7 linked regions of the Homo sapiens genome follow. The protein of the gene in region 5 purifies or fractionates together with the protein of the main gene of each other region. This does not show direct contact. Each region holds a gene or a part of one and is shown on either strand. Other genes may lie near its edges. The genes, in order: TBC1D9B, RRP1, NCAPG, INTS4, BTNL9, WDR44 and SLC30A6.

Region 1 (4,107 bases), 1.2 Mb from region 5:
CTGTCTTAATTTTTTTAAAAAGCCTCTGCTCACAACTGGTGATGACAGTAGTTACGGGAGTTGCAGGAACTTTGTCTAGAGAGTCACACAGGCAGCGTCTCTCATCCATGTGCCTTGACTGCAAGCCAGCAAGAGCCACTGACTGTTCCCAGCTGTGCCTGTAGCCCTTAGACCAAGGTCCATGAGTCCTGGGTTCCCTGGGCCTCTCTGCTCCACCCTTTGACCTGTCCGGGACTGTGCAGGGCAAGCCCTTGTCCTCTTGCCTTCCTCCAGGGAATCATCGCAGAAGAGAACAAGAACCTGCAGCCCCAGGGAGACGAGGACCCCGGGAAGTTCAAGGAGGCTGAGCTGAAGATGCGGAAGCAGTTTGGGATGCCTGAGGGCGAGAAGCTGGTGAATTACTACTCCTGCAGCTACTGGAAGGGCCGCGTGCCCCGGCAGGGCTGGCTGTACCTGACGGTCAACCACCTGTGCTTCTACTCCTTCCTGCTGGGGAAGGAAGGTGAGCCCGCCCCTCAGTGTGCCCCAGCCCCCACACCCTCAGCCCCTCCCTGCCTTCGGCCCCCAGATACTCCATCCCCACATGGCCACCAGAGGGGTCTCCCTGAAACCCAAATGCCACCTTAGCGGCCCAAGATGGGACTGTCCGGCCTTGGCCAGGCGTACACCTGCTCCCAGCCGACTTTTACCATGCCCCCCACTCGCTAGTAGGGTTCTCTACATGGTGACTCCGCGTGCCTGCCCTGCCCTCTTCTGCTGAACTGGCGTATTCAGGCACACGTCTGTCCCAAATTCCTGGTGATTCCATGTCATGCAATGCCTTGGGTGCGTGCCACAGCCCTCATCTGCTGCAGGTTCCTCCCTACAGACATCCCGGCCACAGGATGCGAGCCTGATTTCCCAGCAGCTCCAGAAAGAGCCCCAGGGTCTTAGCCATCCCCAAGCCCACCAAGCCCTCCTCCCTCCTTGCCTCCCTCAGCCCACAGCCTCCCTGTGCCCCCTCCTGCCCTTGCCGCTTACCTGTCACGACCAGGTGGCCAGTCACCTCCCGTCAGCAGGGGCTGTGTCCTGTTCTGTGTTGGCCGCGCTGTGCTGTGACTGTTCACACCTCCGTGCGCTCCCACTTGGGGGAGCTGCTGGGTGGGTCTCGGTGGTTCACCTCCGCACGTTCGTTCCTTTCCCCTTCAGCCACTGGTGGGGGAGACACTCACCGTGTGTGGTTGGTCTGGAAGGCAGTGGACACCTCAGTGGCCTGGTCCCTCCACATGGAGGGCGTGACACAGCCCAGACAGGCCTGGGCACACAGGAAGTGCTGCCCCCAGAGAGCAGTTCCCTGGGATGGGTCTGGGGTACAGATGGGCATCAGGAGCCTCGCCCTGCCAGGCCCTAACTTGCGGTGTGTCTATCTCTGTGGGCACAGTGAGCCTCGTGGTGCAGTGGGTGGACATAACGCGTCTGGAGAAGAACGCCACCCTGCTCTTCCCCGAGAGCATCCGTGTGGACACCCGCGACCAGGAGCTCTTCTTCTCCATGTTCCTCAACATCGGCGAGACCTTCAAGCTCATGGAGCAGTTGGCCAACCTGGCCATGCGGCAGCTGCTGGACAGCGAGGGCTTCCTGGAGGACAAGGCCCTGCCTAGGCCCATCCGGCCACACAGGAACATCTCAGCCCTGAAGCGGTGCGTTGCCCTCCAGGGCTGGGGTGGGCTCATGTGAGCCAGGTTCGCTGACCTTGGCTGGGACCTGCCTGGTCCAAGTGTGTAGACCTGGAGAAGGTGTCCACATTCACCCCTCATGGGCTCCCCACTTGGGAAGGAAGCCAGGTAAACAGATCATTGCAGTCCCGTGTGGAGAGGCAGCAGGAGATAGCAGTGATGTCCTGAGGATACCACTAATGGGGAGGAAGCTCTTCACACTTTATTCCTCTTGGCCCTATGATGGGAAGGGGCTCTTACCATCCCTAGGTATCAGACAAGGAAGCTGAGGCACAGAGAGGTTAAGTAACTTGCCTGAAGTCCCTCGGTTAGTGAGCAGTGGAGCCAGGATGTAGCCACCTCAGCCAGGGTGTTCTGACACCCCCAGAAAGGCTTTGGTAAATCTGGGCTCAAGTGCACGGCCTCCGTCCCACCGTGATTGACAGCTCTCCTGTATACCCTGAGACTCCTTGGCCAGAGGCCTCTCACAGCCATGGGACCCCCAGGGGTCCTGAGTTTGACGTGGAAGCAGACCTCTGGGTCTGAAGCCAGCCAAGGAGATGGGCCATGTGTGGGTCTGAGTTCCCTGCTGCCCTGTCCAGGGGACCGATAGGCAGGAACACATCATAGCAGCCAGCCCTCCCGGGCTACTTAACGTTTGGGTTCCTAGGTTGTAGCTTATGGGAAACTCCAGAGGCTGGACAAGATCTCTGAGGTTCCCTGGGTCCCACAGCCAGCCTGACCACAGCCAGATTCACACCCTTGTGTTGAGCGACCTCATTCCAGCCAGGCCATTTCCTGCATTGCACCCACAGACTGTGGTCCAGGCCCAAACTCTGGGGTCCACCTCCAGGACCAGAAAATTGTGCAAGCATGTTGTCCTTGGGATGCAAGTGACAGGTTGGCTTGTTGGACCTTTTGGAAAGAACACGAGCAGAGATGGAACATGACTGCTCCTGGCACTGCCGGTGAGAATGCAGTCAGGCCCTGGTCAGGCCACTGCGGCCCAGGGCAGGCAGGAGGCTCCCTTTGGGGCTGGGAGAGTTTATGTGGACAGAGCCACCAAAGGGGTGAGGGCCTGGGCCAGGCCACTGTCACAGCCATCAGATACACAGGTGTGCATTTCTGTTAGCAGCCGCATGCTTTAGTTTAAGCTCCACACCTCCCTGTGGGGAGCTCCTCACCTAGGTTTCAAGGTGAAACCTGGGGTTAGGCCTGCCCAGGGTGGAAGAGCTGCCCGGGGCCCTCCATCTGAGTGGGATCCAGGGCAGGTGCTCTGGGCTCTGCTTGCCCATCAGTACCGAGGGATGGGTTGCACATTGCCCAGGCCAGCATCTAGGTGTGTCCTTTTCAAAGCAGTCTCAGGACACATTGCTTGCTGGCCACTTCTCCGCTGGTTATGTGACTGTCTCACCTTCTGCCTGCTCACTCAGCATGCATCTTTTATTGAACTCTGAGGTCCCTGAGCATGACTTGCTCAAGGGACCACCCCAGGGATCCTGAATCTGATGTGGAAACAGGCCTGGGGAGGCCCCAAGGCTTCCTTGAGAGTGTGCTGGTCCTGACCTTGTCCCCTTTCCTCCTGTCCTCCTACCTTGTTTCCCCAGAGACCTGGACGCCCGAGCCAAGAATGAGTGCTACCGAGCCACGTTCCGGCTGCCCAGGGATGAGCGGCTAGACGGCCACACAAGCTGCACCCTGTGGACGCCGTTCAACAAGCTGCACATCCCTGGCCAGATGTTCATCTCCAACAACTACATCTGCTTCGCCAGCAAGGAGGAGGACGCTTGCCACCTCATCATACCCCTGAGGGAGGTCAGCATCCCCTAGTTGAGAGGCCAAGGCCTTTCCAGCCCCGAGGTGTCAGTGGGCTCAGGGACCAGCCTGTCCTGCTCTGCCCTGTCTCACTGGGGGGTACCTGGGAGGATGCCCTAGCCCAGGCAGTCACATGTCACTCAGTGATGGGACAGGTGGAGGGTGTAGGACAAGTGAGCCCCTCCACAGGCACCTGCCCTGTTGGGGAGGCAGGTAACATGGTGGGGGCACACTGCTTGCCCTCTCAGGTCACTTGCCTAGTGGAGACAGGGTCTCCCACGCGTGAGTTTCCATCAGGCCTGCCTTCTGGGCCCTGCAGGGCAAAGTGCTGCTCCGTGGCTGCGCTTAGAGGACCGTGTTCCTGCACCGGTCCCATATGTCACTCTCAGAGGCCACCTCACCAGTCCTCTCTGGACATACCACCTTGGCGTGGCTCGGCTCCAGCAGGCCATCAGAGGTCGGCTCTCCCCTGTGGGGCGGCGTCGGCTCTCCCCTGTGAGGCTGCATTGGCTCTCACTTGCTCCTTCTTGGGTTTCTTGGACTTCCACAGTGACCCTGGTGGGAGCAAGGCCATCTGTCCTGCACTGCACCGAAGGGG
Region 2 (3,715 bases), on a different chromosome or scaffold from region 5:
GAGTAGGCAGGACTGGGCTCAAGGCAGAAGGGGAGGTGGAAGAACAGGACGCCAGGCAGTGCCAGGTCCTGAACGCCAGGGCCGACAGGGTTCACACAGCCAAGGGCCGGCTACAAAGAGGAGGCCACTGCCTCATGGGAAATGAGATGGACGGCTTCAATGGCACGGAGCTCTGGGCAAGGGAAGGGGTGAATCCCTAGGCCCTGGGGCCAGTTTAGCATGGAGAGAGTAACAGGGAAGGCTTCCCAGTGTGGGGCAAAGCCACCATGTGCCTCCTCTGCACCCCATTCTTGCCATGGGCCCCCTGCCCTGCCCGGCACTGTGCTCAACCCCCTCCACTGCAGGTAGGCAGCTCCAGGCCCTGAGTGGTCTGCCGCGGACCCAGGGTTGCCCCTGGTGAGGGCATCACATGCCAACCACACTCGTGTGGCCAGAGGCCCAACACGGAAGGCAGCCCCAGAAATCAAGGACAGAAGTGGAGGGAAGAAGTGGAGGGAAGAAGGGGAAGGAAGACGTGGAGAGACTCAGGAATCTCTGGAGGGTGCGGGAGAGGAGCGGACGGGGCTTGGATCTAAGACGGAGGCACGGAAGGAGGCAGCCCAGCCAGGAGGATGTCTCCAGACCGGGAGGGAGGGCAGCGCACACAGCTCGGGGGAGCTGCAGACAAGGAAGGTGGGTGGGGGAGGCAGGGAGAGGCCTACAGGAGGGATGCCGAGGACAGGGCATTTCCGGGATGCGTGGATAGCAGGCACCCAGGATGGGGGACTCGGCACTCATGCTTCAGGGGGAGACACTGCAGGTGACCCCCATCCAGGGGAGAAGCAAGCAGGTGAGGACGCCGGCTCCATGACTAACACACCCCCTAGTCCTACCTCTCTCCTGCTGCAACCTGAGCAGACGCTTCTGCTTCTTCGTCTTCTTCTGCCGCCTCCCTTCAAGCAGGCGCCTGCAGGCCTTCTCTGGGATCTCATCTTCAGGGAAAATGCCTGAGAACCAGGGCAGAAGTCAGGGGGCTCTCGGGGGCTGGGGACTTATGGTTTGAGGCTCGCTGCTTCCAGCAGGCCCCAGCCAGCACCACCTCCTGACAATGTGTGTGAGAAAGCGCCCTGTTCTAATGCCCAGGAGCAGCGTGTTCAGTACCCGCCACAGCTGAAACGAACCAGCTGAGACCCAAGCCCATCTGGAAAAGCCAGTTCCTGGAGCATCCAGGACACAGGTACAGCATAGAGCGTCCACGACCCCAAATGCCTGGGACCAGCAGTGCTTTGAATGTCAGGTTGTTTTGGAACGTCTGCATCATATTCACCAGTTCAACAGCCCTCACCTGAAAACCCCAAACAGAAAACACTGCGACGAGCATTTCCCTGGAGCTTCCTGTCAGCACTCAGCTTTGGACTTGGTGGCATTTTGGATTTGGGGTTTCAGATTAGAGACGCTCAACCTGTACACCAAAGTCTACAGCCTACAATGCTCATGCTGGCGGCCCAAGGCAACTTTCTGCATCAAAACCTGCCAGATGCACACGATCCTCACGCACCTCACTGACGCGCGCTGTCCCGAAAACCCCAGACGACCAGCCGGGCAACACAGCGAAACCCTGTCTCTACAAAAAATACAACAATTAGCCGGCGTGGTGGCGTGCGCCTGTGGTCCCAGCGACTGGGAGGCTGAGGCGGGAGGATCGCTTGAGACCAGGAGATCGAGGCTGCAGTGAGCTGCATCACACCACTGCACGCCATCCTGGGCAACAGAGCGAGACACCGCCTCAAAAAATAAAAAATAAAAAAACCAAACCCTGGACTACAGCTGATGACGCGCCCGCTGGCGGATGCAGGGGTGTGATGCTGGGATAGAGGAGCTTCACGCAAGGACAGGAAGTGCTGATGCTGGAGGCCGGCAGGGACACGCAGACATCCACTATAAAATCCTTCCAACTGAGTTGCAGGTCTGAAACTTTTCATAAGGAAACACCAGGGGAAACGCCTACGTCTCTAACCATCGACGCCCACTAGGAAACCGTCCTTCCGATAACCTATGCCAGTTCCATCCGCCACGCGCTGCCAAGAACAGACGTGTGCTGCCCAACAGACCAGCAGCAGCACCGCGGTCAGTGCTTGGGAGCCCCTGAGGCCAGCACCCCATCTCTCAGGCTCTGGGGCACTCCAATGGACACTCAAGTCTGAGAACCACTCAGCAAAAACCACAAAAACGAGAGCTGTGGAACCCTGCGCCCTGCCTCCCTGTCCCTCAGAAACACCACCAGGCCTCTCTGCAAAGAGACTCCACGTGCTATGAGACCCCTAGAACCAAACCACTCCCACGAGGATGGAGCTCCACCTCCAAGGTGGTGCCACTGTCAGTGCCCGGCCGATCCTCACCTCCTGCCAGGTCCTGCAGCCTGAAAGAGTAAGACAGATACCCACTTACCACAGCTGCGGCTTCCGCAGGAGGAGGAAGCTCCAGCTAGAGCGGCTGCAGGTTCCTAGCCAGGGGAACCCCAGGGGCTGGGGACGGTCTCAGGGTCCTAGCGGGGATCACCCCGGGGGCTGCGGAAGGGCCCAGGACAAGGCAAAGGCACCCAGATCTGAGCAAGAAAGGGCAACTCCAAGGGGAGCAGGGAGGACGCAGCGCCCTCACACACTCACTTCCGGATCACTTTGTAGAGACGCTTTCTGTTCTGAGAAGGGGTGCTCTGGCGGCTGGCCATTTCAAACAGTCTGTTAGCAACTGCCTCGTAGTCAAACTGTTTCAAAAGAGAGACGTCACAGAGGCAAGGTCAGCCACGCTCTGCGTGCTCCGAGAACGTGGAACCCCTGAGACCCAGATAGCACTTGGTCCCACTTGCAGGTTCTCCACCCGGCTCACAGGAACACAGCCCACCCTCACTGAGGGTCCTGCAGCTCCACCCACTCTACAGCACAGCGGGCACCACACAAGCTGCGGGCGCACTGCGGGGCACGCACTGCGGGGCACACTCTGGAAGATGCACACTGCGGGGCACACTGCAGGGCACACGCCCGCCGGTAGCCTGCCTGCAGCTTTACCACTCTAGGAACCACACAGACAAGCACGAACAACATAGGTTAAATTGATCAATTTTAACCCAAGATAGCCACATTTTATTCAGTCTGCAGATAATCATATTTAAAACTTAAAACATTTAAGTTTCCAATTTGCCTGAAGTCAGACCCCACTGGCTGAGTGGATTCCTCGCTGGGACCCACAGGCCAGCCGCTTGGCACATGCCATCTCATTCCCCACCAGCACCCCAACGAGGGGGCCGCAGGAAATCTGGGGGGCTGCCCATGTGTGAGGCAAGAGGACAGCGTGAGGTGAGGCCAGCCCTGGATAATGCAGTTCTGCCTGAGCCCACCCTCCCAGGCCCCAGCCCCACTTTCCCAGGCCCCAGCCCCACTCTCAATGATCCCACTCGTCTACAGGCGGGCAGGGTTGGGGCACCCATCCCTCCTTCAAAGCTAACCCCTGTCCGGGTAACTCTCCATGCCAACAGCTGCCATCCTCCCTCCTAACGCCCCCCTCCTCTTCCAGAGCAAGCGGTAGCACAGAGGGGCAAAGGCTGAGGGCACAGCCATGAGCCCAGGGAACCCACCTGGAGAACGGGGCCGCCACTGTCCCTGTCGTCACCTGCCTGCTCCTCACCAGCCTCAGGTTCAGCCCTGCAGATGGAGCCTGGAACAAAAGGGACCCCGTGAAC
Region 3 (4,107 bases), on a different chromosome or scaffold from region 5:
TTCTCTGTCCTTGAAGATAGTATAATTCATTATCAGGATTTATTATCAGTTGCTTTTTGTTTTTAATCTAGTTTCTAGGCTAACTAAATCCTTTGTCTTCAACACAACAATCCTTTCAACACATGTATCTCCTACTTGTTCTAGCCATCTTGGTACCAGTTATCACTGCCACAGAAAAAGGAACCCAAGCAAGATTAAAACTTAATTTATTTTGTAAGCACTAATAATGAGTAAGGGAAAATAAGGAAATTTCAAGCAAGTTAAAAGAAGGCAAATTTTAGTTCAATGTATTTGAGGACAGTATATGAAAAATGTGTTATAATGAAGTACCTCTATTATTGCTATAGCACAAAGTCTGTGGAGACTCATGAAAATTAAGGGTTAGAAAGGTAGGTTAGGTGCATAAACAGGTGCTAAAGAAACAACTTTTTTTTTTCTTGGAAGGTGATAAAACATAGTAAGGTAATAATGGCTTCTTGTAAAATAACATACATGACCAATTCAAATGTGTTCTAAAATATATTTCAATGTAAAAACTAGAACCTTTATATACTGGGGATTATAAGATTCTACTTACTAGAAATTTACAAGGTTAAGGAGTAAGACAAAGTTTGGCTTGTGATGTTTCTCATTTATAAGGAATAAAACAATATGAATATATGAAGTTTGGTCTATTAAAAAGGATGGTGTTCTCATGGTGTGATATACCACAAAAAAAATCTGATCAAAACCAAACTGTTCAATGTGACAGTCTGAAAATTATATACTCTACTTCATTCATGTTACACTTTTTTCTACTCCTTACCTGCTTTTACTAATGCATTTATCCCCAAGAAAACATCCAACAATATGGGACTAATTTGGAACAATATCCAGCAATTGGTATTTAAATAATTTACTGGTTACAAAACAATATTATGACCAGACTCCATTTTAGAAAAAATTAAATCTGCATCGAAAAGGGCCTTAAAAAATAGATTTCTAAAATCAAAATCATGGTTGGCTCATGGGTGGGATTATTAGTGTTCCTTATAGTAGTTTGTCTGGATGTACTTTCTGATTCTTCTGTAATAAGCATGCATTGCTTTTGTAATGAGGAAATAATAAAACAATAAAAAGATCTTGAATTTCAGATTTTTTTCCAAGTGACCCCCTAATAGTCAGCATTTACTTTGCCAACAGATCCCCTATTGTTGGATAGCCCTTGGGAAATAAGTTGGGAAAATATGAAATAAGATGGGAATAGAAGGAAAACAAAGCCCAGAAAAATACTACAGGGATTTTTTAAAAATGCTTAGTTACAGGAAGGATAGAACACAAATAACTAATATAAAACCATCATTTAACCAAATCTTAATTTAACCCAAATTGTCTTTTGTAATATCTTTTGCATCATACTTCTTTCAATCTAAAGCACCAAGAGCAACACTGATTTTATAATCTTTAGACACAAGGCAAAAACTGACATCCACAGAAAGAATTAAAAAGAAAGGATACCAAAGACATTTTAAAAAAAATCTTTATCCCTAAGGAAACAAAGATAAGAAAACTTGCAAAACAAGTATTTTTCATTGGAAGATAAAATTTAAAACTTTTATCATAAAGATGGTCAATCCACACACTACCTCTGTTAGTCTTTAGCTGAGTAGACTTTGATGCTTGGGTTGCTTTTACACCCCTGAGTGGAGTCATATATACTTCTTTATTCTTTTCTATTAAAGGGAATAATACAACAATATAAATAAGATAACCTCATGAAATATTTTAAATTGTCTTTTTAAGACCAGTTTTTATAAAACTGAAATGACAAAGTCCTTCTAGCAGCTAGTGAAAAGTTATAAATCACCCTTTCGAAAATTTGAATATTGGAAAAAGAAGCAAAACTCTTAAAAAGATGGTCATATGTTGAGAAATGCATGCCAAAAAACACTTGAAAAGCAGAATAAACATTTATCAGTAATGCTCTTTCCCAAGAGGATTAATTAGAAAAAAAATTTCATTCATTTCTGATGTCCAACCAAACATGTTAGAGTAGAAAAAAATATGTCTCAGTAAAGATGGAAAAAAAAAAACAGAACCTTATAAATATTCTGTTCAGTATGTGATTACCATCTTCATTTTGGAAAGTAGTTGTAGTCAAGGTGGCATCCTGTGCTGCTTCAGCTTGGTCACCAAATTCTTTATTTCCTTTTTCTAACTGAATCTTGATTTTCTCCAAAGCTCTCAGACATGTCCTATCTTTTACTTGCTATAAAAGAAAACATTATTAACATTTTGTAAACACCGCATTCCCTAATCTTTGAAAATAGTACCAATACATATCAAGTTGTTTAAAAACACTAAATTATATGAAATTTATGAAGAAAATACTTCAAATAAGTCACAATATGCTAACATATGTATAATCTAATACAACCATGTAAATTCTACATGTATAAATATAAACACAAACTAATTTAGAGTAATGAGAAACTACTTTACCTCCAGAATCTCATTCAATAGAACCAGAAGATCTTTTGCAAGATGGCTACTGAGTTCTAAAGAACTCAAGGCTTTTGTATAGACTCGAATTTCTGGCGAGCACGGACTTGTTAAGATCTCATTGCAAATTTTCATAGCCAAATTGTCATGTACTGTTAAGGCCTAAAAAATTAAGAGAAAATTCTCTGTAAATTGAAGATGATTATGATTATTATATAGTCTTACACATCTAACAAATATTTCCAACTAATTTTCTTGCCATAATCCCAAATATAAAATGTCTAAAACCAAATTTAACATCCTCCCTACCCCCAAAATAAGCTCCCCTTCTTGACTTCTTGTTGTGGATGTTGTGATATAGGGCCCAGTTCCACTCCCTTTAGGAAAGATGCACTCATCCCCCAGTTGCTGCATGTTTTGGAGGGTAAAAGTTCCCAGCTGCAGTACTGATCCAGGCTGACAATGGTGGACTTTGGTGGACCTTGTCCAAGATCATACCTCTTCTCCCAAAGATTTGTCCAAATCCAATGACTGGCCCGTGCACAAGTACAGTGTTTCAGCTTGTCTCCATTCTGGACAACTCAAAGGAACATCCCAGTTCCGGAACTCCCTATGGGATTGGCTGGGGCCTTTGTTTGCATAGCAGTAGTTGAACTTAGGGCTATGCCCCAATCTACTTTTCCCTTACTCTTCCAAGACACTGATCATGAGAGTACTCCCCAATTAAACTATGTCAACAGCTCCTTTGAAGTCTGCTGTTACACATACTTAGAGTTTTCCTGGACTCCTCCATCTCCCTTGCCTCTCAAGCTCTTTCTTTTAGATTCTTGTACCCATAATTCTTTATTAGGTCAATTTCTATTCTTTCTACTATTACTTTCTAGTACTTTTTCTACAAGCGAATTATACAGATTTTCAGCTGCTTTCTTTATTAATATTCTTTTCTTTCTGCTCACCAATTCATCTCATATAACCACCACTGACCACCAAATTAATCTTTCCAATAAGTGGTTTTCATGACATTAACCCTTTCATCATAAGCCCTGCATAATTATCCATTGCACATAAGGCCAACTCCAAATTCCCTACATTGGCCTTTAAAGCAATCTATAATCTACCCCCAGTGTTGTGCCCTAACAGTCCTATTCAGGATCCTTAGCCAAAGTCATCTTTCTACAGTTCCCCAATATTTGCATAACCATCTACATATATCACCTTTACTAAAACATCCTTCCTCTACCCAAACCACTCCCCAAATACCAACAAGGCCTAACTGAATTTTGGTCAATGAGTTTTAAAACTAATGCTGTACTCATCATTCCTACCACATGACTCTTGCCCTTGTCTCAAGTCATGAAGTGCTTAATAGCTCTATTACTGACCCTTACCTAATTTTGCCTAATATCCTTTGTAATCTTATCTTTCCAATAATATACAACATATGAATTGAACAGAGTAGCTTATCACTAAATATCAAATAAAATAGAGTAATACTTTCAACTTAATCTGTTAGCATCTGAAATCACTAATACATTAAATTTCAAAAATGGTAACAAGTTTGACCAAATGCCATTAAAGGATTAAAACAACCCAGCTTAAGTTCAGTCTGTGAGTCAGTGTGCAATT
Region 4 (4,107 bases), on a different chromosome or scaffold from region 5:
TATCAGACTTTGTTCTGGGCACTGGACGGTGTCCATTAGCACAATTGTTAAGTCTTATGCGTTGCAATTGTTTGCCATATGTGTCTATCTCCTTCAGACTTTGAGCTCCGTAAATTCAGAGGCTGCAGATCCATTAGTCTCTATCCCAGTGCCTGGCAGGTTCCTAGGAACATTGAAGGGACATTATAAATGTTTCACTTATGTTTTACGTGAATAAAATCAGGCTTTCTTTTTTTGTTGTTCTTTTCTTTAAAAAATTTTTTAAAAAATCGTATCTATCTATCTAGAGACTGGGTTATGAGACTGGCTAATTTTTATATTTTTGATAGAGATGAGGTTTCACCATGTTACCAAGGTTGGTCTCAAACTCCTGGGCTCAAGCGATTCACCTACCTCAGCCTCCCAAAGTGCTGGGATTACAGGCATGAACCACTGTGCCTGGCATCTTTTTGAGTGTTGCTCTGTTGCCCAATCTAGAGTGCAATGGCGTGATCACTGCCCACTGAAGTCTGGACTCCCAGGCTCAAGCCATCCTCCCACCTCAGCCTCCTGAGGAGCTGGGACCACAGGCACATGCCACCACTCCCGGCTAATTTTTTCTTTTTAATTTTTTTTGTAGAGATGGAGTCTCTCTGTGTTGCCCAGGCTGGTCGCGAATTCCTGAGCTCAAGCAACCCTCCTGCTTGGCCCTCCCAAAGGATTGGGATTACAGACGTGAGCTACCACATCTGACCAAAATCAGGATTTCTGTTCTCAAGAAGTTTTCGATCTCTCAGTGATCTATTTTCCGTTAGTCTTTTTCTTAGCAATATCTACCATTATTATTATATTAAAGATCTGTTACCAATAATCATCTATAATAATACTTCTTAGAGCAGTTAACATTATATTGCTTGTTAGAGTTTGAAAGCACTTTCCATATGTAATATTTTATTTAATCCTGGTGACAGCACCATTGTTATCTCTAAATTCCAGATATGGAACTAAGCTTAGAGCTGTTTAGTATCCAAGGTCACCCAGCTAGTAAATGGAAGGTATGGATTTGAACTTGGGTTTTTTTTTTAAAAAACCTTTTGTTATGGAACATTTCAGATATATACTATGTAAGTAAAGAGAATAGTTTAATTAATTCCCATGTACCCATTACCTGGCTTCAAAAATTATCATTTTGTGGCCAAACTTGTTTCATTTTCCCTCTTCCCCAATCCACTTCTACTTCTTTACCCTCACCTTCTCCACCAGATTCTTATGAAAATAAATTCCTGGCATCATATTATTTTAATCATAAATTTTGATTTATATCTTTAAGTGGTGAAGACTCTTTTTTTATTATTATACTTTAGGTTCTAGGGCACATGTGCACAACGTGCAGGTTTGTTACATGTGTATACATGTGCCATGTTGGCTTGCTGCACCCATTAACTCATCATTTACTTTAGGTATTTCTCCTAATGCTATCCCTCCCCCAGCCCCCCACTCCCCAACAGGCCCCGGTGTGTGATGTTTCCCGCCCTGTGTCCAAGTGTTCTCACTGTTCAATTCCCACCTATGAGTGAGAACATGCGGTGTTTGGTTTTCTGTCCTTGTGATAGTTTGCTGAGAAGGATGGTTTTCAGCTTCATCCATTTCCCTGCGAAGGACATGAACGCATCCTTTTTTATGGCTGCATAGTATTCCATGGTGTATATGTGCCACATTTTCTTAATCCAGTCTATCGTTGGTGGACATTTGGGTTACTTCCAAGTCTTTGCTCTTGTGAATAGTGCCGCAATAAACATACGTGCACATGTATCTTTATAGTAGCATGATTTATAATCCTTTGGGTATATACCCAGTAATGGGATTGCTGGGTCAAATGGTATTTCTAGTTCTAGATCCTTGAGGAATTGCCGCACTCTCTTCCACAATGGTTGAACTAATTTACACTCCCAACAGTGTAAAAGTGTTCCTATTTCTCCACATCCTCTCCAGCATCTGTTGTTGCCTGACTTTTTAATGATTGCCATTCTAACTGATGTGAGATGGTATCTCATTGTGGTTTTGATTTGCATTTCTCTGATGACCAGTGATGGTGAGCATTTTTTCATGTGTCTGTTGGCTGCATAAATGTGGCGAAGACTCTTAAAAAACATAATCTTTTGTCATGTCTAAAAGCAAAATTTAACTCAGGTGTTCTGATGTCAGATCTCAAGCACTTTAACCAGTCCATGCTGCATGCATTAATCAAGTGGACCCTAGCTCCTAAGGAAATGAGGAGGGATGCCAGATGGACCCAGTTCTAGATTGTTGACCATAGTGTTTTTTACCCTTTCTTCTGTTCTATCCAGAAATGTGGTATTTTATGTTAATATTTTAGTGGATAAAACTACTCTGGCTTCTGCTTTTTCCTACTTTTTTTTTGTGATCAGGCATTAGTATCTGAACTTATTTCACATGATTGATTCTTCACTTATGCTACTGTGCTAGTAGCTATGGAGGATGCAGAGCTGTGAGATATGTTCTTTGTCCTTTAGGGGCTAGCAGTGTAGTCGGCAGACCATATATGTAGTATGTAGATAGTAAGTGCTAAAGTTTTCCATTTGCTTATTTTTTCATTTGCTCAGCATGTCTGAATACTTACTCTGTGCCAGGCTTTGTGCTTCATGTTGGTAATAGAGATGTAGATGATGTAATCCCTGATCTGAGTCTTGAGTAAATAAGAAATGAATTAATAACAATACAGTGTTTCAGGTCTTATGAAATCTGGGGTAGGTTATGATATGGCCTCAAAGAAGGGGGCGATTAATTATTGGAAGCAGGGATCCAGAAATGCATTATAGAGTGGTAGCGATGCTTGAGAAAAGTCCTAGAAATAGATTTTGGCCAGTTGGAAGACAGGGGGAAAGACATTTTAGTTGTGAGCAACCGTGAACATGGGCATGGAGATGTGAGACAGGCTATCACATTAGAAGAAATGCAGCTAGTTTGGCTGGTGCAGATTTTAGGTTGGGAGCTCATCAAGAGATAAGACCAGAAGATTTGGAAGGCATCTGATTCTAAAGGGCCTTGTATTCTACCTTGTCAGTTTTTGTTTTAGAAATGTCACTCTGAGGGGAAGTATGGAGGATAAAGGAATTGGATGGACTGGAGTTAGAGTGACCAATTAGAAGACTGTAAGTTTGGGGAAAGGTGATGAAAGCCTGAACCAAGACAGTTTTAATGGTCAGAAGAAACAATTATTAGAGAAGGCTTCCCTGGAGGTAATTCTGTTTTTAGCTCAGGTGTGAAGGAGATCATTTATGTGTCATAGTAGAAGGAGTGCTAAGGGATTATTTCAGAAAGTAAAAGAACTTGAGTAAAGTATCCAAATGGATAAGGAATGTCACTAGGTCAGATGCTCTCTTATCTGCTTTTTTTTTTTTTTCATTTACATTTATTTTCTTTTCCCCCCCTTTTTTCCCTTTTTTTTCCTAACAAGGTCTCACTCCAGGCTGGAGTGCAGTGGTGCTATCATGGTTCACTGAAACCTCCACCTCCCAGGCTTATGCAATCCTCTCACCTCAGCCTCCTAAGTAGCTGGAACTATAGGCATGTGCCACCATGCCTGGCTAATCATTTCTTAATTGTGGTAACAATTAAAATTTATTATCTTAACCATTTTAAGTGTGCAGTTCATGTGTGTTAAGTACATTCATATTGTTATGCAGCCATCACCACCATCCATCTCCAGAACTCTTTTCATCTTGTAAAACTGAAACTCTTTCCCCATTAAACAGTAATCCTCCATCACCCCCACCTCCAGCCCCTGGCAACCACCATCTACCTTTTTTTTTTTTTCATTTTTTGACACAGAGTCTCACTCTGTCACCCAGGCTGGAGTGCAGTGGCGTGATCTCAGCTCACTGCAACTTCTGCCTCCTGTGTTCAAGTGATTCTCCTGCCTCGGCCTCCCGAGTAGCTGGGACTATAGGCGTGCACCACCATGCCTGCCTAATTTTTGTATTTTTGGTAGAGACAGGGTTTTGCCATGTTGGTCAGTCTGGTCTCAAACTTCCTGACGTAGGGTGATCTGCCTGCCTTGGCCTCCCAAGGTGTTGGGATTACAGATGTGAGCCACTGTGCCCGGTC
Region 5 (4,107 bases):
CTCCCAAATCTATTAGCTCGGCGGAAACGTTAAGCCCCGGACACTGCCTCACGTAACTGGGCTGTTTTCTCGGTGCCTGACCGCCGCTTCCTGACCCTGTGCGGAGATGTTGCGCATCCGCCCGACTCCCTGTGCGCTATGAAAACCTGGACGAGGTGGCGCTGGCAGCAGAGACCCTGGTCACCGCTCCCTCTGTACAGTGTGATGTGAAGCTCCGAGGGCGTAACGACAGCAGCCGGTCAACCCTGACATCTGTGCACTAGCCTCCGTGGAAAATGCAGCCGTTCCGCACCTCCGCTTTTGTCCATATGAACGATCTTCCCCCTTCCCCACCGGGGTCACCGATCCCCGTTCCCCGGTGGCCGCCCTGACACCTCGCGCTGGAATAAACCCTCGTAACGGGACCCACAGCCTTTAGATGACGGCGGGTTTTGGCACTTGGGCAGGTGCGTGCAGAACGCCCTGTCCCCGCTCACCTTGTCTCTTCTCCGCCTGCTTCCTCAGCTTTTCTGAAGGGAAACGGGAGCGGAGAGGGCTGAGTGCGCGCCCCCGCCCCTTCCAGGCCGCCTTCCCGCGCCGCGTCCTGGGGGGAGGCGCCTCCGCGGCCCCGGGGTTCAGCACCGGCCGGTGCCCCTCCCCGCCCCGCCGCCCGCGCCGGTACCTCGGCTTCTCCGCTGCTTCCGGAGGACGCCCAGCGCCAGCGCCGCGAGGACCAACAGCAGCGGCAGGGTCGCGACGAACGCGCTCTTCCACGCAGAGGCTCCGGGTACGAACACGTCTGGAAAACACCCGCGGGGGCCGTGTCGGTCCAGGCGCCGCTGAGCACCGAGAGGCGAGACCGGCCTGCCCGCCGCGTGCCGGGAAACCTCCCGCGGGACCTTCTCCGGGCGCCACCGCAGCCGCCTGGGAAACGGGCGTGGAGCGGGAGCGCGCGCGGCGGAGGGGGCGGGGGCGCGCGCGGCGGAGGGGGCGGGGGCGCGCCGCGGGGCGTGCGGGAGGGAACCGCGCCCCAGCCCGGCTCGAGGCTTCTGCGGCCGCAGCGCCGCCCTCGCCCCGCGTCTTCCCGCCCTCGCCCCGCGTCCGCAGGCGGGAGGGTCCCAGGGGCTTGGCTGGCGGCGGATGTCCGGGGAGCTCCTGCTCGCACCCGCGCCGTCTGGTCCGCAAGTCGTCTCCTCGCTTGTTTGCAAACATCCGGCTTCTCCCTCGGTTCTTACCACGCTTTTGGAAGAAGTGAGAACCGAACCACGTGCGCGCGGCCTCGCAGCTCCCACGTCCCTCCCGGCTCCCCAGGGAGGACCCGCCCGCAGGCAGGACGTGGCCGGGGGCAGCGCCGACAGCACCAGCGGCGCAGGGACGCGCAGAACCCACCGGCCCTTCGCAAACCCTGTGGCGGTTGAATAGAGTAACTTTCTGTCTGTGTCATCTAGTTATTAGAAAATGGTGCTTTTATCTCAGATCTTTAAAAAATGTTCTTTTTATTGTAGTAAAATATACGTAACAACCTTTCCCATCTTAACCATTTTTAAGTGTACAGTTCAGGGGCATTAAGTGCATTCACCATGTCGTGTGCAACCATCACCCCCGCCCATCTCCAGAAGTTTCTTCATCTTTCAAAACTGAAACTCTGTACTTATTAAACAGTAATTCCTCTTCCCACGCCCAAGCCCCTGGCGCCCTCCGTATACTCTCCATCCCTGTGGACTTGACTCCTCTAGGTAATCCCACATCCGTGGAATCAGACGGCATTTGTTCTGTGTGTCTGGCTTATAAGTGACATCAGTGGACTGTGGTTTTTAATTTTGTTTTTCTAGCAGTGCATTTTTATTGTATGGTACAAAAACACTGGGTCACAATGGATTGGTCCTCACAACAGATGGTGTCTGAAGCAATGGCCTGGGGTCAAGGGCAAGGGCTCAGGGCGGACTGTCTCTCTGACCTGTGACCCTCCCCCTCGACCCTCTGGCCTCCTCGCTGTTCTGCCAGCAGCCGGCAGTTTCCCTCTCAGGCCCCTGGCTTTGCCCTTCCCGCCACCAGAATGCCTTCCCAAAGGTATCCATGTGAGTCACGCCCTCTGTAGAGGGGTCCGCGCATGCAAACATTTACCCATCTAAAAATTTTTATATAAACTTGTTTCATAATAAATATCAATAATATAAATTAAGATTTATATTAAAAGCTAAAAAGAAAATATTGGGTTTTTCCTGGTGCAAAAAGAGAGACTCTTTCCTCTTCCCCTCTCTTAGTTCATTTTCCTTAGAAAATATATCAGTTCTTTCTTTACAACCCAATAATGTTTTCCTTAAGGGCCACTTGTTTGAAATGTAAACATAAAAGAGAGAGCACTGCCGTGGAGATCCCTGTCTCATGGGAGTTTAGCTTAGCTGCGTGGCTCCAAGTTGTATGCCCTAGACGTATCACATGCTTGATTTTTCCTTTGGTTAAAGACAGTTGGCTCACACAGATGGCCATCCCAATTCCCACGGAATTTAGAACTGCTGTGGTAAGCGGTGTTGCCAGGTCCTCCTACTTGCAGACAAGTTATCATTTATCTTGAGAACATGTGTGCATTGGCTTGTATCTGACTGACTATATCAAAGGGGGAGTTTTTTTCTGTTATAATAAAATAGCTTTTGATTTGGACTCGTGTGAAAAGTGGCCCGTATGTTGGGTTTGTCCTTAAAATGTAAAACAATTAGAACCATGAACTTGAAACCCTTCAGTGGCTGCCTCATAATAAGACTTTAATAATGACCTTGCCTTCAGCTCACTGCCTACACGCCCACTTCCTGGACGTGCCTTTTGTAATCTGTGGACATGCCTCACTGCTTTCAGCCTGCTTCATTTTTCTCTACGGCACCTACCACCTTCTTCTTGTTTTTTTTTTTTTTGTTTTTTTTTTGAGACGGATTCTCGCTCTGTTGCCCAGGCTGGAGTGCAGATCTCGGCTCACTGCAACCTCTGCCCCCCGGTTCAAGCGATTCTCCTGCCTCAGCCTCCCGAGTAGCTGGGATTACAGGCGCCTGCCACTATGCCGGGCTAATTTTTGTAATTTTAGTAGAGATGGGGATTCACCATCTTGGCCAGGCTGGTCTTGAACTCCTGACCTCATGATCCACCCGCCTTGGCCTCCCAAAGTGCTGGGATTACAGGCGTGAGCCACTGCACCCGGCTGCACCTACCACCTTCTAACGTGATGTGACAGGATGCACTTCTTTTGCTTATTGTCTGTATCCCCCACTGGCATGGGGACCTGAGGGTAGGGACTGGGGTCACGTTGTGGAAACTCAATACATACTGTTTGAGAGACAGCATTACGAATCTATTGGCTCCCATGATGCCTCTGATGAGCAGAGTTGATGGGTTTTAGTGTATGGCCTTAGGCACAGAAAGGCGGGCTCTCTGGGGCCTCTCTCACTGACTGTTTGGGTTCTCAGTAGCGTTCTTAGTGTGTTCCTAATATCCAAGGTGCTGACTTTTCAGGTGTCAAGGCCAACACACCCTATATGCAGACAGGCGCAGTACCATTGTGTCTTTATAGACTGCCTTTGGGCCAATGTGTATGTACACATGAGGACTAGGAAGATGGGTGTGAGCTAACAGCCACTGACCTGCTATCTGGACCACCAACTCTTTCTTCTGGCTCAAGAGGAGATTCTGGATGGAGACGGACACATTGCTGAGGGCTCCCGCTCGGACAACCACAGATGTTTCCAGACTGAACAGGTCCTGGGCATCCCAGACGATGGCTTCAAACTCTGGAGGCAGGCACTGTCCCTGGTGGTCTCTCCACTGAACCTTAGGCTTGGGGTACCAGCCACTGGATCTGAGCCTCAGCTGAATGCCTCCTTCCTTGAAGCCCTCAAGGGAGAGGTGAGGGTCTGAGCCCAGCCCTGGTGGAGGCAGGAGGAGTGGGAAAGGTCAGGCTTCTTCTGAGAAATCACGCATAACATTCCTGCCACTGTTCAGCATTTGCAGTCACCATAAAGCATCATGAAGTGTGACTGCTATTAAGACGTGTGTGGGCTTGGCGCTCCCCGCCCATGGACGGGAAATGACAGTCTAAATCAGTGGTAGCATGTGGGGACAGTAATGCCCCTGAGGGACATT
Region 6 (4,107 bases), on a different chromosome or scaffold from region 5:
CCCACCACAGCTACCATGTAAGTAGCTCTGAGTCCCAGAATCTGGCTGTGGTAAAATTAGTGTTATCAAGTCTTTTGTGTAGCCCGCTTCCTAGCATATAAAGTTTTTCTATGATTAGGAAAAGGAAATTATAAAAAAAAAAAGTCTTCAATTCTGACCAATACAGGACAAACATAGACTATAGTTGGTGTTTATTAGTACCAACAATATTACAAATAGTAGCATCTGTCGTTTTTTGAATACCTATTACCTGCTAGATACTTGGCATATTTTAGCTCATTTCAAACCCTCAAGGAAGGACTTTTCCTCCATTTTATTGATGGGGCATCTGAGATCCAGATGCTAAACAGCTTGCTAGGCTCACCCAGTTAGCATGTAGCAGAGCTGATCAAGAGAAGTAAGGGGGTCAGGTTTGGAGGACAAAGAAAAATCTGGCCTGGAGAATACAGAATAATCATCAACAAACCAGCCAGTTGCAGGGAGCTGATAAAGTCTATATGAAACAGAACACTAATTCACCAACCTGGGCGGTAACTATTTTATCTCCACTGGTAGCACTTGCCAAATCAAGAGAAGGCTGAGAATCCTTAACCGTACTTTCTGAAGCCATGCTTGCGGTTAGGAGAGAATCAGACGTAATATTCTCTTTGGGAACTGCAATGATAATAATAACAACAATAATAACAACCCTTTTTGTTTGATTCTTGTAACAACCCTGTGAGGAAAGTGGCTTGATTACTCTCATTTCCTATACAGGGAAACCATGGTTCAAACAAGTTATTTAATTTCCTCAAGACTATACAGCTCATACAAAAAAAAGATGCAGGACTTGAATTCAGACTTTAGGTCTCCAAATCCCAAGTTTTTTTCACCATGCCACTCTCTCTCAGATGGCAACAGAATTGAAAGTTTGAAGTCTGCTGAAGTGTTCAATTACAGTAAAGTAATTTTCACCAATGTAAACATTTTTACATTTTGTCTATTACTAAAGAAATAATTTTAATAACTTGGTTGCCAGTGAGTTTTTTAATAAAGTGAAATAAAGGCAGAAAGGTAAACAGTTTCAACTCCAAAATTTCACCACAAAGAGTTATTTCTCTCTTTTTTTTTTTTTTTGAGACAAGATTTCACTCTGATCACCCAGGCTGGAGTGCAATGGCGCGACCTTGGCTCACTGCAGTCTCTGCCTCCCAGGCCCAAGCAACTCTCCTGCCTCAGCCTCCCAAGTAGCTGGGACTACAGGCGCGTGCCACCATGGCCAGCTAACTTTTGTATTTTTTTTTGTTGTTGTTGCTCAGATGGGGTTTTGCCATGTTGCCCAGGCTGGTCTTGAACTGAGCTCAAGCGATCCGCCCGCCTTGGCCTCCCAAAGTGCTGGGATTACAGGCGTGAGCCACTGTGCCCAACCAACAGAGTGATTTCTCAATTAATACTTGCCATCTATATCAGGAGTTTTCAGAGTCTCAAATTCCAATTCGCTTTTCCTTTTTCTTGGTGGTGGAGCAGGTCGAGAAGGAGGTGGGGGTCTAGGAGGTGGGAAATTAGTTGGAGGAGGTGGGCGTGCTGGAACAGGCTTCTTTGTACTAGCCACTATATCAGGCTCTGGAGTAAGGTGTCTTGGGGGTTTGGCAGGGGCCACTTCTTCCACAGCGGCAAAATCTTTAGTAGATAAGGAGTCTGAGGACACAGGCTCTAAAACATCACCACCTCCTTTGACTTCCACTGCTTCCTTGTTCAATACTTCTGTTTCAGTTTCAAGCACATTAAGCTGCTCAGTTGAACTTGTTTGAGTTAACTTCGTGGTTTCATCTACTGGTTTCTCACAGGTTTCATCAGAAGGAAAGCATTTTTTTAATTCTAATTCAGTCTCTTCAAATGTATTCTGACTCTCTGCCTTTTGGGATTCTTCCGGTAGTACTTGATCTATGGCTAACAGTCCGGGTATATTGCTCAGATCTGTTCTAGCCACAATAGGACTGGCAGTAGCTTGATCAGAGAGTTCTTTTCCTTTGGAATCCAAAGAGTCATCTTCAAGCTGTAGTACTTTCTGACTCTCCTCAATAATACTTTCAATAATCTGATGAAAGGGTTAAAAGTAGTTTTTAAAAATGAAGCTATTTATAAGAACACAGTAACAGCTAATCATTTACATAGTACTTAGTATGTGCCAGGCAATGTTCTTAACACTTTACATATTTTAATCTTTACAACAACCTTATGAGATTCTACTCCTACTGTCACCATTTTACAAATTAGGGAACTAATCAAATGATTTGTCCAAGGTCACAAAGCTAGTAAGTGATGAAGCAGGTATAAACCCAGGGAGTTTGATTCCAGCATCTATACTCTTAACCCTCATAATAGCAAATTTGTGTTAATACTTAGGTACAAAAGATCAAATAATCCTGTAAAATCAAGTTCAATCCTAAACTTACATTAAGACTCAATATCCTGATTCATTTACATATTTATGCCAAACTTGTTGTAATACCAGCCTAATGGTTTGAGCCTACTTAACCAAACCACGATAATCCAAATCCCCAGGAGAAGAATTCAAGTTGTTTAGCTCTGAACTCAAGCTTATGACCCAAAAACCAGCAGATGCAGGGAGATTAACATTCTTAAACAGACTACACCTAAACTCCACTATGTGGACTGATGGCAGGACCATGAAAAGAGTTCAAATACCCAGTCCACCTTGTCTTTTCCCTTCCTTTCTTTTTCTTTTTTGAAATGGAGTCTCACTCTGTCACCCAGGCTGGAGTGCAGTGGCACGATCTTGGCTCACTGCAACCTCTGCCTCCCAGGTTCAAGCAATTCTCCTGCCTCAGCCTCCCTAAAAGCTGAGATTACAGGTGCTCCACGCCGGGATAATTTTTGTATTTTTAGTAGAGACGAGGTTTCACCATGTTGGCCAGGCTGGCCTTTAACTCCCGACCTCATGTGATCCACCTGCCTCAGCCTCCCAAAGTGCTGGGATTACAGGCATGAGCCACTGCGCCTGGCCCCCTTTCTTATATGTAGCTTAAAATATAAACAGGCTTTCTATTATCTTCTGCCAACATTTAGAATATATTTTCTCCCCAGTCTTGTCATTACTAATATTAAATCTCCCAGATCACTTATCCTGCCACCATGTCCAACCATGAACAACTTCTGCTTTCTCAATTCCCTGGCTTCAGAAAGTTAACAGAATGCATCATAGAACCATCCTAATCTGGTTTACTACAATTTCATGCTAACTTGAACTGGGTATTACTGCTGCTCAGTAATATTCATCCCTGATTTCTTAGCATGTTCTATATGTTAGTTTTTCTCAAACTTCAAATTGTTAACCTTAGAAATTACCTTGCTTTCACCAAAACTAACCAGAGTCCAACCAATTTGTCAATTAGGTGGTTACTGAGCACTGAGAACCTCAATGATAACAGTGATAACAGAAGTCATATTACAATGGATTTGAGATTGAATAAGAGGTGAAGATACAGAGACATTAGCACGGTCTGAGTTTTCAAAAAGCTTAGCTATAAATGCAAAAAGACTTCGATAAAGTGACCCAGCACTTTTATAACCTGAAGGGAAGGAACTACTGGAAAAGAAGATAACAGAGCAATGTTCTGGAAAAGAAAGGAAAGAAGGCCTACTGTGTATTAGACCTAGTATACACATTCTCATTTAATTGTCATACAGGCCTTTGGGTTAGGTAGCTGGATTACCTCCCTCCTAGAAAAGCAGGACTCTGAGGTAAAGGCTTTAAGAATTTTGCCAGTCCCACAATTAGTAAGCTACAAAGCCAAAACTGAAATCCAGGTCTTACTTAAAAATCCAGTGATCTTTGTATTATACCACACTACTTTGGACAGAAAACAAGAATACTAAATCTTCAGTGATGGATGACATGAAAAAAAGGTAAGAAATAACAATAAATATGTAGGTAAAGGAAGTGAAAGATGATACAAAGGAATGGATTCAGGCTTTTTAGCCTCTAATATTTACGTGGAGTAGGAAACAAGGTTATCGGCTGAAAGTGAGGGGGATGTGAGTGGGTACAGTGAGCATGAGGTGAGTATAAAGGTTTGAAATAATCACTACACATAATGGAAATGT
Region 7 (4,107 bases), on a different chromosome or scaffold from region 5:
TAGTGTGGTGGGTCCCCCACTAGGTTATTCGATGATGTATGTCCGCTGCCCGAACTCTGAAGGCCAGGCAATGAGCCAAAGCCATGGTGTACAGTCGAGGAGCAAGCGACCCTGAGAACCAAAGATTTTAGAGAGCATCTGAGACCCTACCAAGGAAAACAGTCTCATTACACACATACAGCAGGCAAAGAGCGAGAAAATTAGCTTAAAAGCAGCTTAGAAATGGGAGGTGGGTAGATCTCTAAAGCTGTCCTGCTTCCCAGGAGTGCCCCATAGGTAACTCCTAACAAACTCACCTACTGGCCATGCTGGACCTGTCCAAGTCATTCTTTGGTCTCTTGACACTCTGGTCATTTGGCACCTTCCCAGTAAGGAGGGAGGGGATGTTACAGTCTCAAGTTTTTCTTGTAATAAGTTTTAGACATCCAAAATAATGAGAGAGGGAAAGAGTTGGGGAAGGTGGAGGTGAAGCAACCATTTTCCCACTACAAAAGCATAGCCTGAAACTAAAGACTGCAAAGTGGGTAATATCATTGAACTGCTAGACCAGCTTTGATCTGTTTATCTATAAAATTTGTGTTATATTAGAAAAATCAAACCCTATCTGTTTTTTTTAATGATACTGTAGAAGAGTATTTAATGACATAGAAAACTGTTCATGATAAATTAATTAAACAAAAAGAGCTAATTATAAAACAGCATGATCTCATTTTCTGTTGTTTTTTTTTTTTTTTTTTTTTTTGGAGACAGAGTCTCACTCTGTCACCCAGGCTAGAGTGCAATGGCGTGATCTCGGCTCACTGCAACCTCTGCCTCCCGGGTTCAAGAGATTCTCCTGCCTCAGCCTCCCGAGTAACTGGAATTACAGGCGTGTGCCACACCCCACGCCCAGCTAATTTTGTATTTTTAGCAGAGATGGGGTTTCACCATGTTAGCCAAGTTGGTCTCAAACTCTCAACCTCAGGTGATCTGCCCGCCTCGGCTTCCCAAAGTGCTGGTATTACAGGCGTGAGCTACCACGCCCAGCCCGTGATCTCATTTTCTAAGGAAAATAAATGTATAAACACCAAAATATCAACAGCAGTTTTCTTTAGATGATAAGATTATAGTGCTTTACATTTTCTGTATTTTCCTCATCATTCCTAACGTACGAGTAAAACCGTGTCATAATAAAGTCTCTCTGGTATTGAGGTTCAAACTGAATTAGAAAATACGAAATTTTATGCTGAAGCAAGTTGTGTTACTGTAGTTCTTCAAAATATTCAGCAAACTCTCCAAAATGAGAACTACAGTTAAAAAAGAAAGCAATTGCACTTTTAATTTTTTTTAACATTTTCTTATTTGGAAATTACACTGACTACAAATTTGTCTTATCTGGACACTCCTGTATTATTATCATTAACATGTTTGATGGAAAAAAAATAAAAACATTCCTCTATTGTTTGGGAGATTAAGGCGGGAGGACTGCTTGAGGCCAGGAGTTCAACACCAGCCTGGGCAACAGAGTGAGACCCTGTCTCTAAACACCAAAAAATCCCTCAATTAGGTAATTGAATTCATGTACATTTTAGACTCTGCTTAACATAACTAGGAATCAAAGGCTCTATAAAAATTTTAAGGAAATATTTTTTTTCAGTTTTAAAAATGGAAGACTATATTTTAAATTATAACTAAAGTCATATGTAAAAGAACATACCAATGAGCCAAAACCTAGGGTCCAAAAATGTTCATTTCGGACTTCTAAAACTCCATCTAAGGTAGATACCTACCAAAAACAGAAAGAGGTGATCAGAGTTGTCTGTACTTAACATATCCAATGCAGTTTAGTCACATTATGGACTTAGTTTAAACTTAAGAATGACAGCCAAATCCTGCACAAGGACACTCATTAGCTAAGAGAAGTCTCAGACCACTCAAGATACCATTCCTGTTTGTTCCATACTGACCCAAGACCTTGCTTTCCTCGTTTCTTGCTTGCCCCAATTCTTTTAGAATCAGGTCCCCACTGCTCAGTTTTAAACCCCTACCCCAACCAATTTCTTCAACAGTGTATGGTTCTTTTCATATCAATATGGAATATATTTATATCTAGCACTTTGTGGTATCAGATTTTTTACTTAATTTTTTTGTTTTCTCAATCACTTCTTTCTCTGAAATCCCTTATAACAAATCTCTGCACAACACAGGATGTTGTTTGGATGTGAGTCTAGAAGAAATTCCAAGGCCAGATATATAGTGTGTAGCCCACTGGTACAGTTGCACAGGACACATACTCAAGGCCAGGCTTCACTAGTTGAGAGTAGTAGCCAGTTATACTGGTAAAAGTGGCCTCTGTCACACTGACAATCAAAGGTTTAAAATAGTTTCAACATCAAAATAGTTCATTATTTTATTTCTTCATTAGTTAGTAGGTGGAAATTTGTAACAACTTAAAAGAAAGTCTAGGCTGGGCATGGTGGCTCATGTCTGCAATTCCAGTACTTTGGGAGGCTGAGGTAGGCAGATCACTTGAGGCCAGGAGTTCGAGTCCAGCCAGGCCAACATGGCGAAACCCTGTCTCTACTAAAAAAGTACAACAATTAGCCGGTGGGAAGCAGAGAACACGGCACTGCACTCCAGACTGGGTGGCAGAGTAAGACCCTGTACCCCCTGGAAAAAAAAAAAAAATCACAGCATTTGACCGGGCACAGTGGCTCATGCCTGTAATCCCAGCACTTTGGAAGGCCAAGATGGGAGGATGGCTTGAGAGCAGGAGTTCAAGACCAGCCTGGTCAACATAGCAAGACCCCATCTCTTTTTATATATATATTTTAAAAAAACAACAAAAGGCTGGGCACAGTGGCTCATGCCTGTAATCCCAGCATTTTGGGAGGTCACAAGGGGCGGATCATTTGAGGTCAGGAGTTCGAGACCAGCCTGGCCAACATGGTGAAACCTCGTCTCTACTAAAAATACAAAAATTAGCCAGGCATGGTGGTGGGAGCCTGTAATCCCAGCTACTCAGGAGGTTGAAGCAGGAGAATCGCTTGAACTCAGGAGGCGGAGGTTGCAGTGAACCAAGATCATGCCACTGCACCCCAGCCTGGGTGATAGAGCAAGACTCAGTCTCAAAAAAAACAAAAAACAGGCTGGGCACGGTGGCTCACACCTATAATCCCAGCACTTTGGGAGGCCGAGGCGGGTGGATCACGAGGTCAAGAGATTGAGACCATCTTGGCCAACATGGTGAAACCCCGTCTCTACTAAAAATACAAAAGTTAGGCCGGGCCTGGTGGCTCATGCCTGTAACCCCAGCACTTTGGGAGGTCGAGGTGGGTGGATCACGAGGTCAGGAGTTCAAGACCAGCCTGGTCGAGATGGTGAAACCCTGTCTCTACTAAAAATACAAAAATTAGCCAGGCATGTGGTGGGCGCCTATAATCCCAGCTGCTTGGGAGGCTGAGGCAGAAGAATCACTTGAACTCAGGAGGCGGAGGTTGCAGTGAGCCGAGATTGTGCCACTGCACTCCAGCCTGGGCGACAGAGCGAGACTCCATCTCAGAAAAAAAAAAAAAAAAAAAAAAAATACAGAAGTTAGTTGGGCGGGCCAGGCGCTGTGGACATGCCTGTAATCCCAGCACTTTGGGAGGCCGAGGCGGGTGGATCACAAGGTCAGGAGTTCAAGACCAGCCTGGCCAACACAGCGAAACCCTGTCTCCACTAAAAATACAAAAATTAGCTGGGTATGGTGGCTTGCATCTGTAGTCCCGGCTACTCAGGAGGCTGAGGCAGGAGAATCACTTGAACCTGGGAGACGGAGGTTGCAGTGAGCCAAGACGGCACCATTGCACTCCAGCCTGGGCGACAGAGCAAGACTCTGTCTCAAAAAAAAAAGAAAAAGTTAGCTGGGCATGGTGGCACGCGCCTGTAGTCTCACCTACTCAGGAGGCCGAGGAAGGAGAATTGCTTGAGCCTGGGAGGTGGAGGTTGCAGTGAGCTGAGATTGCGCCACTGCACTACAGCCTGGCAACAGAGCAAGACTGTCTCAAAAAAAAAATAACTAAATAACTAAATAAAATAAATAAAAATCATAGCATTTATAATAGGGTGGTCATTAGGCCATTACCT

The links.
Region 1: the proteins of BTNL9 (region 5) and TBC1D9B purify together in Homo sapiens (affinity purification with mass spectrometry; one large-scale study listed by BioGRID and IntAct). This does not show direct contact.
Region 2: the proteins of BTNL9 (region 5) and RRP1 purify together in Homo sapiens (affinity purification with mass spectrometry; one large-scale study listed by BioGRID and IntAct). This does not show direct contact.
Region 3: the proteins of BTNL9 (region 5) and NCAPG purify together in Homo sapiens (affinity purification with mass spectrometry; one large-scale study listed by BioGRID and IntAct). This does not show direct contact.
Region 4: the proteins of BTNL9 (region 5) and INTS4 purify together in Homo sapiens (affinity purification with mass spectrometry; one large-scale study listed by BioGRID and IntAct). This does not show direct contact.
Region 6: the proteins of BTNL9 (region 5) and WDR44 purify together in Homo sapiens (affinity purification with mass spectrometry; one large-scale study listed by BioGRID and IntAct). This does not show direct contact.
Region 7: the proteins of BTNL9 (region 5) and SLC30A6 purify together in Homo sapiens (affinity purification with mass spectrometry; one large-scale study listed by BioGRID and IntAct). This does not show direct contact.

Annotation. Positions count from the first base shown.
Region 1 is NC_000005.10:179,890,781-179,894,887, reverse strand, and holds part of TBC1D9B (TBC1 domain family member 9B), read left to right. Parts: intron 1-273; coding exon 274-502; intron 503-1,420; coding exon 1,421-1,679; intron 1,680-3,301; coding exon 3,302-3,509; intron 3,510-4,107. UniProt on the Homo sapiens protein: May act as a GTPase-activating protein for Rab family protein(s).
Region 2 is NC_000021.9:43,799,545-43,803,259, reverse strand, and holds part of RRP1 (ribosomal RNA processing protein 1 homolog A), read right to left. Parts: intron 3,691-3,715; coding exon 3,611-3,690; intron 2,744-3,610; coding exon 2,646-2,743; intron 2,399-2,645; coding exon 2,379-2,398; intron 987-2,378; coding exon 873-986; intron 1-872. UniProt on the Homo sapiens protein: Plays a critical role in the generation of 28S rRNA.
Region 3 is NC_000004.12:17,838,212-17,842,318, reverse strand, and holds part of NCAPG (condensin complex subunit 3), read right to left. Parts: intron 2,644-4,107; coding exon 2,482-2,643; intron 2,249-2,481; coding exon 2,110-2,248; intron 1,713-2,109; coding exon 1,626-1,712; intron 1,133-1,625; exon of another isoform or gene 10-1,132; coding exon 1-9. UniProt on the Homo sapiens protein: Regulatory subunit of the condensin complex, a complex required for conversion of interphase chromatin into mitotic-like condense chromosomes.
Region 4 is NC_000011.10:77,984,211-77,988,317, reverse strand, and holds part of INTS4 (integrator complex subunit 4), read left to right. Parts: intron 1-4,107. UniProt on the Homo sapiens protein: Component of the integrator complex, a multiprotein complex that terminates RNA polymerase II (Pol II) transcription in the promoter-proximal region of genes.
Region 5 is NC_000005.10:181,049,871-181,053,977, reverse strand, and holds part of BTNL9 (butyrophilin-like protein 9 isoform a precursor), read right to left. Parts: intron 3,891-4,107; coding exon 3,609-3,890; intron 779-3,608; coding exon 662-778; intron 512-661; exon of another isoform or gene 510-511; coding exon 477-509; exon of another isoform or gene 1-476.
Region 6 is NC_000023.11:118,390,602-118,394,708, reverse strand, and holds part of WDR44 (WD repeat-containing protein 44), read right to left. Parts: intron 2,078-4,107; coding exon 1,438-2,077; intron 655-1,437; coding exon 524-654; intron 1-523. UniProt on the Homo sapiens protein: Downstream effector for Rab11 which regulates Rab11 intracellular membrane trafficking functions such as endocytic recycling, intracellular ciliogenesis and protein export.
Region 7 is NC_000002.12:32,207,151-32,211,257, reverse strand, and holds part of SLC30A6 (zinc transporter 6), read right to left. Parts: intron 1,766-4,107; coding exon 1,697-1,765; intron 362-1,696; coding exon of another isoform or gene 297-361; intron 1-296. UniProt on the Homo sapiens protein: Has probably no intrinsic transporter activity but together with SLC30A5 forms a functional zinc ion:proton antiporter heterodimer, mediating zinc entry into the lumen of organelles along the secretory pathway.